Linked DNA regions of Homo sapiens: region 1 is linked to region 2. The links come from fine-mapping of genetic effects on gene expression. A gene starts in region 2. The other region holds a variant in brackets. All regions are shown on one strand. Distances are between the middles of the regions.

Region 1 (5,358 bases), 92 kb after region 2:
GTGGCTGCCGCCGCCGGGAATGTCGATCTGTGTCTCTTCAAATGCCCTTCTTGTCTCCTCCTCAGTGTACACCTGCGTGGTCTCCACCACCTCAGCCTTCTCCGCCCCTTTCAGTGGCAGAAGGCGCAAGCCCGTCTCGGGGTCCTCCACGCACCGCTCCAGCAGCTGCCTGTACGTGAGGTTCTCATGCGTGTTGGGGTCAAAGAAGCCCTTGGTGTCGTCGCTGGGGTCCGCCAGGACGCGGTTCATCTCCTCACTGAAGTAGCCGCGCTGGTAGGCCACGTCCACAGGCACGCGGTGGCTGTGCACGGGGTCGATGATGCCGCCCGTGGCGATCTGGGCCTCCAGCAGGCGGATGCCGTGCTGCCGGAGAACCAGGCCCTTCTGCATGGCCTGGAAGAGGGAGATGGTGCTGCCCGAGTAGGGGTCTCTGTAGCCGGTGACGGCCTTCTCGGCAGACAGCAGCTGCTCGTGAAGCTCGGGGCCCACCACGCCCGCCTTCACGGCCTCGTGGACATACAGGCGCTGGTTCCGCACGGGGTCCACCAGGAAGCCAGTGGCCGCCTGCGCCTCCAGCAGGAGCGCAGCCGTTGTGGCTCTCAGCAGGCCCCGGCGCATGGCCTCGTAGATGGACACCTTCTCCTTGGTGTCCTCCAGGTAGATGCCGGCGAGGCAGCCACTGCCCTGCAGCAGCGTCCGCACGGAGCCCAGCTCCGAAAGGTCCTTGACCGTCGTCTTGCCGTCCTTGAGCTGCTCAAACTGGGCTCTGCTGAGGACCCCGGAAGCCAGGAGCTCGCTGGCTGGCACAGGGGCACGGAGGCCGCTGAAGGACAGCCTCTCCTGCCGCAGGGTCTCCACCTCCTCCACGATGGTAATGAGAATCTTGATGACCTTCTCCACGGTGACCTTGCCCGTGCGGAACTGACGCAACAGCTCCTGCCGCTGCTCCGCAGTGAAGTACTCAGAGCTGATGAGCTCCCACACCGTCACCGTCCTGCCCTTGAAGCCACCCACGGGGACCTCAACCGGGGTCTTTTCAAAGGTCTCACGGGCCTGCAGCTCTGAGTAGAGCTCCTCCTGCCGGGCCCGAGCAGCCTTTTCTGAGAGCGGCAGCAGGCTCAGCCCGGTCAGCTGGTCGGGCCGGCACCGCTGCTGGAGCTCGCCGTAGGTGGCCGGCTCCCCTGTGCTGGGGTCACTGTAGGCCTTGGCGTCGGCCCTTGGTGCCGACAGGGCCCTGCTGGTCTCCTCATCCAGGCAGCCTCGGGCGCAGGCGACATCCAGGGGCACGCGGTGGCTCTTGCTGGGGTCCACGATGCCGCCCGTGGACAGCTGGGCGTCCAACAGGCGCAGGCCCTGCTCCCGGGGAATGAGGCCCTTCTTCAGGGCCTGGAACAGGGAGACGCTCTGCCCTGTGTAGGGGTCCCTGTACCCTGTCACAGCCTTCTCGGCTGATAGCAGCTTCTCATGAAACTCGGGGCCCACCAGGCCAGCACGCACTGCCTCGTCCACGGTCAGCCGGGCGCTGGTGGCGGGGTCGATGATGTGCCCGGTGCCGGCCTGGGCTTCCAACAGGGCCACGGCCATGTCGGATGGCAGCAGGTCTTTCTTCAGGGCATTGTAGATACTCAGCTTCTGCCCCGCCTCCTCCAGCCATACACCCGCGATGACGTTGGCACCCCGGAGAGCCCGCCGCACAGTGTCCACCTCGGCTACGTCTCGCACAGAGCGCTCACCTCGCTGCAGCTGCTGGTAGAGCTCGCGGTCGATGACCCTGCTCTCCAGCAGCTCGGCGGCTGGCACCAGGCTGCGCAGGCCCTCAAAGCAAAGCCGGCCCTTCTGCTCCTGCTCCTCCACCACCGTGATGATGATCTTGATGATCTTCTCCACTGTGATCCGGCCCGTGCGGAACTGCCGCAGCAGGTCCCGCCGCTGCTCTGCCGTGAAGTATTCCGAGTTGATGATCTCCCAAATGGTCACCGTCTTGCCCTGGAACTTGCCGAACGGCGCAGACACGGTGGCCTTCTCAAAGACGTCCCGGGCCTCGGAGTCAGTGTAGACCAGCTCCCCGCCCTTGGCAGCCTTATCCGTGAGTGGCAGAAGGCACAGGCCCGTCTCGGGGTCCTCCACGCAGCGCTCCAGTAGCTGCAGGTACGTGAGGTTCTCGTGCGTGTTGGGGTCAAAGAAGCCCTTGGTGTCGTCGCTGGGGTCCGCCAGGACGCGGTTCATCTCCTCGTCGAAGTAGCCGCGCCGGTAGGCCACGTCCACGGGCACGCGGTGGCTGTGCACGGGGTCGATAACGCCGCCCGTGGCGATCTGGGCCTCCAGCAGGCGGATGCCGTGCTCCCGGACGATGAGGCCCTTCTGCATGGCTTGGAAGAGAGAGATCTGCTGGCCAGTGTAGGGGTCCTTGTAGCCAGTGACGGCGCGCTCGGCCGACAGCAGCTTGTGGTGCAGCTCGGGGCCCACCACACCCTCCTTCACAGCCTCGTTGACGGTCAGCCGCCGGTTCCGCACAGGGTCCAGCAGGAAGCCTGAGGCCGCCTGCGCCTCCAGCAGGATGAGGGCCGTGCCGGGACTCAGCAGCTGCCTCTGCAGGGCGGCGTAAACACTCAGCTTCTCATTGGTGGCCTTCAGCAACAGCCCTGCGATACTGCTGCGGCCCTGCAGGTAGTGGCGCACGTCTTCCCGCC[G/A]TGCGAGCTCGTCCACCGTGGTGTGGCCCTGCGCCAACCGCTGCAGCTCCTCCGCACTCAGGATGCCGGCCTCCTGCAGCCTCTGAGCTGACACCTTCCGCCGCAGGCCATCGAAGCTGTGCTCCGGCTCTGCCTCTGCCGCGGGGCCATCAAGTGCATCCCGGCCATTGGGCAGGGTCTTTGTGGCAGCCACCTGCGAGGCAGTGACCTCCTCTGAGTGCGCCAGCGCGGCCCGGTGCTGCTCCTCCAGGAGCTGCAGCTGCTCACGCAGCCTCTGGTTCTCCTCAGCCAGCAGCTCCTCCTGCTGCCGCCGCTGCTGCTCCAGCTGCTGCAGCTCCTCCTGCTTGCGCCGCACGCCCTCCTCGGCCTCATGCTGCCGCCGCCGCGCCTCCTCCATGCTGGCCACCAGCCGCTGCCGTTCCTGCTCCATCTGCTGCTGCTGCCGCTGCTGCTCCTCACGCAGCTGCTGTGCCTTGGCCACCTCGTCCTGGAAGAGCTGCTCCAGCTTGGCCTTCTCCTGCTCGATGAAGCGCTCCCGCTGTAGCAGGCTGTCCTTTTCAGAGAGGAAGCTTTGCTGCAGGGCCTGCGTCTCCTGCAGCAGCTGCTCCTGCTGCACCGTCTGCATCTGCAGAAGAAGAGGGTGTGATCAGGGACCGCCAGCCCAGGAGCACCCATCACCCACCAAAGCAGATCCCCGGGCCCACCCGCCCGTCGCACGTAGAGGGGGCGGTACCTCCTCAGACTTGAGCTGCAGCAGTTTGGCCTCCTGTTGGAGCTTCTCCTTCTCACGCTCCAGCTCAGCGATGGCCTCCCGCAGGCGCTCGGCATCATGGTCACTCTGCTGTCGCTGGATCTCCAGTGTCTGCACCAGGGTCACCTTCTCCTGGGTGGCGAGCTCCGTGCGGTGCAGCTTCTCACCGATCTCCTCCGCCTGCTTCCGGAAGCGCTGGGCGTCCTCCTCAGCGCGGGCCTGGGCTCGGCTCATCTCGGCCACACGCAGCTTGAGGCGCTCAGCCTCAGCGCTCATCTCCAGCTGCCGCTGCCGCTCGGCCTCCAGCGTCCGCTGGAAGCCCTGCGTCTCCTCCGCCAGCTGCTGCGCCATCTGCTCCTTGTCCTCCTGCAGCCGCCGCGCCTGCTCCTGCGCAAGCTCCTTCTGCTGCTGCAGCAGTTCCGCCTCAGCCTTGAGTCGCGTGGCCTCCTGCACCGCCTGCATCTTCTCCTTGAGCATCTTCTCTGCCAAGGCCCGCTGCTGTGCCAGGTCCTCCTCTGCCAGCTGCCGCAGTCGCGCAGCCTCTTGGGCCGCCACACTCAGCCGCGCGGCCTCCTCCGCCACCTGCTTCATCTTCTCAGCCTCCTCCTGCAGGAAGCGCTGCGTATTGTCCTTGTCACGCAAGATGAGTGCGCGGTTCTCAGCCTCGATGCGTGCCTTGAGCTTGCTCAGCTCCTCCATCTGCACGCGCACCGAGAAGAGCTCCTCCTCCACCTGGCTGCGCTGGCGTGCGGCCTCCGTGGCCTCCGCCTTCAGCCGCTGCAGCTCCTCGTCCAGCAGGTTCTTCTGGTGGTCGGTCTCCTCCAGCTGCAGCCGCAGTGTTGTCAGCTCCTGCTCCACCTGCGCCTTCTGCCGCAGCGTCTGCTCGGCGAATTTCTTATGCTTCTCCATCTCCGCGTCAGCTGCCTGCTTCTGCCGCAGGGCCGCCTGCTCCGCCTGTGCCCGCCGCGCCGCCTCTTGCTCGGCCTCCTTGCGCAGCTTCTCTGCAGCCGCCTGTGCCTGAGCCCGGGCCTGTGCCTGCTCCTCTGCCGACTGCTTCAGCCGCTCGGCCTCTTCCACCTGCCGCCGGGACTGCGCCGCCTCACGCTCCGCCTGCACCCGGGCCTCCTCCGCCTCCTCAGCCGCCCGCCGGGCCGCCTCCGCCTCGCCGCGCAGCTGGTCCAGCACGCTCTGCTCCTGCTGCAGCGTCTGCTGTAGCTCCTGCTCCTTCTGCTGCACCGCGAAGGCGTGTGCCTTCTCTTCCGCCTGCAGCCGCTTCTGGGCGGCCTCCTGGGCCAGCTGCAGCTGCCGCGCCGACTCCTGCTCCGCTCGCTCCCGCAGGCGCCGCGCCTCCTCCACCTTGGCTTTCAGCCGCTCGACTTCCTCCAGCGCCGCCTTCCGCTGCCGTGCGGCCTCCTCCTCGGCCGCCAGGCTCTTCTGCACGCGCTCCTCAGCCTCACGGCGCCGCCGCTCCTCCTCCGCCGCCAGCTGCCGCTGCCTCGCAGCCTCCAGCTCGGCCTGCTCCTTGCTGCGCAGCGTGTCCTCCGCGTTGCTGCGGATGCGTCCCAGCTCCAGCTCCAGCTCCGCCTTGCCAGCGGCCGCCTTCTCGAAGCTCGCCTTCAGCGCCAGGATCTCCTCCTCCACCTGCCGCCGCTGCCTCAGCGTGTCCTCCACCAGCCCCTTCTGCCGCTCCAGCTCGCTGTCCGATGCCTTGCGCAGCTGGGCCAGGCGCTCCTCGATGTCAGCCTTGTGTTGCGCGGCCTGCTCCTCCAGCCGCCGCCGCTGGAAGGCCTCGTCCTCCGCCAGCCGCCGCAGGCGCTCGTTCTCCGCCTCCTTCTCCTTGAGCGCGATCTCCGCCTCCGTCTTGAGCCGCGTGGCCTCGCCGATGGCGGCCAGCTTCTCCGCAAGCACCCGCTCCGC
Region 2 (5,310 bases):
AAGTGAAAAGATGCATCCAGAAGACCTACCCTTGCTGCAAAGAGGCAGCCGGCCTCATTCTGCAGCCACCAGGCAGAAGGCATGCCCATGGGAGGGGAGGCCCTTCTGCATCTTCTGGCTTCCTTCCCCACCAGGCCACTGTCAGCCAAGTTCAGCTGCTCCATTCAACCTCCCATGAGAGCTGAAGCAGCATGAGACAGGGGACAGGCTCTCATCACTGTGCCCAACCAGGACGGTGGGAACAGATAACCCTTCTAGAAGCCTTTCCATCCCAATGATTAAAAGAGGAATGGGTTAGACCACAGGCTACAGCTCACTCCTGGAGCCGGATGCAAGCCTGAAACCTGACGATAAAAAAACACGTATTAAACCCAACAGAATTTGGATGGCAACAAACACCCCAACAGACAACCCGTTCGTGGGGTCAGTTATGGCCCACGTCCAACTCAACAATGACACCACCTATCTGGCACCACGCCACAGCAGACCTGAGCCCCCATTTAACCCTCATGAGCACAGGGCGCTGTTCTGCGGGTGCTAGGGGAGTCAGGCATCCACTCTCCTCCTCCACCTTCCCATGTCCAGTCCTTGTCTCTGAGCCTCCTCCTCCTTCACCATCAACTCTCTGACTGCTGCCTGAAGACAGTCACCAGGTCCTCAACCCTTACATCCTTTCTCTCTGGAGTGCCCCTCAAAGGTCACTTACTCCTGTGGCTTCAAGAGAAAGGACATAGTAGAAAGAGTGGAGTTAGCCAGTCCTGTGAATCACACACTGGGCTGCCCTCGCAAGCTGGGTATCTTGTGTAAATGCCTCTCTCCCCCTAGTAACTGGTTTCTGCCTCAGTGGGACATGGGACCAGCCCGCCCGCTGGGGGCCTGGCAATGGCAGTCTAAGGACACTCCCTGGTCCTGCCAGTCCAGCCTTCAGCCATTTGCCCAAGCTGTCTTCTCAAACAGACCTTATCCCATCCCGCTGGGTGTGGGCTGGGGGAAGGGTGACAAGTAATACAGGGGTAAACTGCGGCTGAGAAAGGTCCAAAAGGGGATTAGGTCCTATAAGCTAAGTGGTGAGAAGGAAAGACCAGACTTCATCGTGCATGTGTTGTGTGCATGGGTGTTCTCCCTCTACGTTAATAACGCCTGCCCTGCCCGGGGAAGTGGGCACTGAGCAGAGCAGGGGGCGACTCACTCCTCTGGATGCCCACGCAGCTCCCTAGGGCGCCCAGCAAATGGCACCCTGGGTGGGAACTGGCTTCTGGTGCGCACTAGACCTCCAACTGCCTGTCTGGTTCCCCACTGCGTCCCCAGATCCTCCCGCAGAGCTGGGGACAATGCGATTTCTCAAAACACGTAGGATGAGAGCGCACGTCCTTCCTTTCCACGTGGAGACAAGAGAATGGAGATAACCAGATCCCTCTCCAGCACCGGAGAACGAATTCACAGCTGCAGGCGTAGTGAGCCAAGGCCGCCCCATGCTCTGAGCTGCAGGCCCCTTTCTACAGGTCCCGTCCCCTTCTGATCCCATCAACCCGAAGGCCCACGCGTCACCCCCAGAACCCCGCTTCCGTCGTGACCACGGCGCACACCCCCGTCGGCAAAGGGAGGACGACGACCCCCGCTTGCCGGACCTAGCGGACAGGAACGCAACCCCGCCAGGCTCGCCCGCAAGGGCCACACGCCGCGCCCAGGCCCCCGCCCCGCCCCGCCGGAAGCTGGGGTCCGCAGGCCGGAAGCTGAGGCCGCGAGCCGGCCGCCGGCGCGCGCCCGCCCCGCCCCCGCCTCACGCGACCCGGGGACACGAGGGAGTCCGCGCGGGACCTGGGAAGACCGCCGCGTTCTTGGGAGGCCCTCCGCGCCCAGGCTGGGTCGACGACCCGGCCCCGCAAGCCGAGGGCCGCCCGCGCTCATGGGGGGGCTCACTTACGAGAGCTATGGTCGCCGTCGCCATCTTGCGTCCGTCGCGGCCTCCGCGCGCGCCTCCCACTCTTGCTCCTTCCGCTGTCTCGCGCGATCTGGGTGCCGGTGCACGGAACTCTCGCGAGGAAGGAGGTAAGAACGCGCTTCCGGGGCGGGGAGGAACGGTAAACGCCCCCGGGAGGGGCGACGGAAGGGGCGTGCTCTTGGCCGGGCGAGGGGCGTGGCCCGCGCACCTCGGGCGTCTAGGGGCGTGCGCCGCGGGACTCGAGTCGGGCGTATCTCTCCGCGTGGCCGACGCGGGCGTGCGTAGTACCCTTCGCCGCCCGTCGCCCTTGCGGCCACTGCTACGCTTCTCTTCTCTGCCTTTTTTGGAGAAAACGCTGTCGCGTGCGTCGTCCAGAGGCTCTCCCCCAGGAGGCAGGCGAAAGAGCGGGGCCCTCCTGGGCTGGAGGAGTCTCGGGTGATGAAAGGCCCGCGTGTTTCAGGCTGACGTCGTGAGATGCGTCGTCCCCGCGTCGCGACATCCCTGGGACCGGGAGGCCCCGTTCAATTGGCAGCTTTTTCTCCTTCCAGGGAACCGATGACCCTAGGTTGGCTGACATCAGTCGCTAGACCCGCAGCCCGCAGGCCCCGTTAGTCCCTGAACTGGCTTTCATGGCCCAAGGTGTCTGTCAGTACTGCTGGGAAAGCTGCCTGTCCTGGACATTTGCCATCTGCTGCACCCAGTCCCGAGACCCCAACTCGGTCATCCGAAGAAGCCACATCTGTAAGCTCAGGCACCTTCAGCTGCCTAAGGCCACAAGGCATCCCGGGCAGGCCTCCTTTCAACCCTGGGAACATTTAGAATTTAATACAGACACTTCTACTTAAATAGGGCAGAATATTCCCCGCCTCCCTCCTGAAACCTTCCAAAATTATAGGAAAGGGGTTTTATAAAGACAAACCCTGCAAGGGCAAAGAGCTGGGATATTGCAGAGCTTAAGAAAGGTGGACAGCGAGAGCTACTCCAGCCCACTTGGCTATGGAGGCCAGTGTCTGAGGGTCGTGGGTGAAAGCACAGCTACAGAAAGGAAACCCCAGACCTCTGTCCCTACCCACCGGGGCTGGCAGGCACTGCAGTGTCTGAGACGTGAGCTCCAGGAGAGGAGCTCTGAGGCCCTGCTCAAGCAAGGCCCTGTCTGAAAGCCTGGGAGTAAGTGAGACTCTGGGTCCTACCCCTGCCTCCACCCCTGGGCTGGGTCTGACCACCCGCATGCCATCAGGCTTCTCAGAGAAGAGGGCTCCTCTCTGCAGCAGCTCCTAGCTCAAAAGAAAAGACTGGCAGGGCACCTAGGGGTAGAGTGTTGCCCAGTAGAATGGCCCAGCCAGATCCCTGGCCTCGAAGCTCACCAGGTCATAAGCCCCAGCCACTAAAAGCATCTCACTCTTCAATGCAGCTGGACAGCCCAGGATCACCAGACACCTGAGAAAGAAGAAAAGGGACTCAGAAGAAACAGAGACGATAAAGGAAGCCGAAGAAAAATGAAAACTAAAATGCCATTCTCAGTCAATAAAAAGGAACTGGGGGCTATAGAGAAAGAAACCTCGGGATGAGAAAGAGCTCTTAGAAATAAAACATGAGGGGAAAGTGAGCAATTCAATAGGCTTTTAAGATGAAGTCTTCCAGAATGTATAATGACAGAACCAGATAGCTGGAAAACAGAATAGCAGTAACACAGGTGGGTGCTCTTAGGGCTAGCCTGGCACACAAGGCCTCCACAATGGAGGGGGTGGATGGGAGGTGGGGGGCTGGTCTGCCACCACCACCAGGGGAAGCCACAGGCACCACCCTCTGGGGACAGCTTCCCTTGGCAATAATGTGCACGCAGGATGCATGGTGCCCAGGACTGTTCTTACACACATTCATTCATGGGATCCTCACAACCCAGTGCTATGCAATGGATACAGCTGTTACCCCATTTTTACTGATGGGCAACATCACAAGGCAGGGAGCAGCAGTAGAATGGCTCCAGAGCCTGTGTTCTTGCCACCACCATGACTGCATCTCAAAAGAGAAGTCCAGGTCAGGCACAGTGGCTCATGCCTGCCTTCCCAGCACTTCAGGAGGCTGAGGCAGGAGTATCACTTGGGCCCAGGGGTTCAAGACCAGCTTGGGCAATATAGTGAGGCCACGTCTCTACAAAAAGTAATTTTAAAAAACCAGCTGGGCATGGTGGCACACGCCTGTAGTCCTAGCTACTAGAGAGGCTAAGGTGGGAGGATTGCTGGAGCCCAGAAGGTGGAGGTTGCAGTGCCCTGTGATCACACCACTGCACTCCAGCCTGGGTGACAGAGCCAGACCCTGTCTCAAAAAAACAACAAAAACTCAACAGAAGTCCAACATCTAAATAAATTGTCCAGAAAATAAGGAAATGAGAGAAATCAGCAGAGATAAATCAAGAAAATTTCCTAGAACCAAACAGTCATGTTTTCTGAACAATGGGTGAAAGGGAAGTTGTATATCAAGACACATCATTGAGAATTACCCAAGTAATGGGGCAAAGAAAAAGAAGAGATCATAGGTAAAGAGTCAGAATTCAGGAAGGCACAAGAGTTCTTGGAACTAGAAGAAAATGACACAATACCCTTGAAATCCTGGGAATAAATGATTTTCAACCAAGCCAAGCTTTTTGTAGCTAGTCGCACTGTTAAGCATATGTGAGGTTAGCATAAAGACTGTGGGGAAAAGCAAGAGAGATCAGATTGTTACTGTGTCTGTGTAGAAAGTAGTAGACATAGGAGACTCCATTTTGTTTTGTACTAAGGAAAATTCTTCTGCCTTGAGACTCTGTTAATCTATGACCTTACCCCCAACCCCGTGCTCTCTGAAACATGTGCTGTGTCAACTCAGAGTTGAATGGATTAAGGGCGGTGCAAGATGTGCTTTGTTAAACAGATGCTTGAAGGCAGCATGCTCCTTAAGAGTCATCACCACTCCCTAATCTCAAGTACCCAGGGACACAAAAACTGCGGAAGGCCGCAGGGACCTCTGCCTAGGAAAGCCAGGTATTGTCCAAGGTTTCTCCCCATGTGATAGTCTGAAATATGGCCTCGTGGGATGGGAAAGACCTGACCGTCCCCCAGCCCGACACCCGTAAAGGGTCTGTGCTGAGGAGGATTAGTAAAAGAGGAAGGAATGCCTCTTGCAGTTGAGACAAGAGGAAGGCATCTGTCTCCTGCCCGTCCCTGGGCAATGGAATGTCTCCATATAAAACCTGATTGCATGCTCCATCTACTGAGATAGGGAAAAACCGCCTTAGGGCTGGAGGTGGGACCTGCGGGCAGCAATACTGCTTTGTAAAGCATTGAGATGTTTATGTGTATGCATATCTAAAAGCACAGCACTTAATCGTT

Evidence for each region. PIP is the estimated chance that this variant, and not a neighbour inherited with it, causes the effect.
Region 1: its variant is fine-mapped to the expression of PUF60 in whole blood (TOPMed, PIP 0.97).

What each region holds. Positions count from the first base shown.
Region 1 is chr8:143,919,081-143,924,438 of GRCh38, forward strand. It overlaps PLEC (plectin), which reads right to left. Exons shown (of 32, transcript NM_201384.3): 31 at 3,424-5,358; 32 at 1-3,315. Among named protein-coding and RNA genes, the nearest start is that of PLEC, 18 kb to the right of the region's middle. The variant G/A (reference allele first, on the strand shown) is at 2,691.
Region 2 is chr8:143,827,356-143,832,665 of GRCh38, forward strand. It overlaps PUF60 (poly(U) binding splicing factor 60), which reads right to left and starts at 1,960. Exons shown (of 12, transcript NM_078480.3): 1 at 1,925-1,960. The coding sequence starts at 1,948. LOC107986985 (a long non-coding RNA gene) reads left to right here and starts at 1,925. Exons shown (of 3, transcript XR_001746138.2): 1 at 1,925-2,049; 2 at 2,491-2,683; 3 at 3,354-4,576. It also overlaps a transcript of NRBP2 not described here. RefSeq lists a silencer at 1,678-2,247 and enhancers at 2,032-2,731, 2,052-3,251.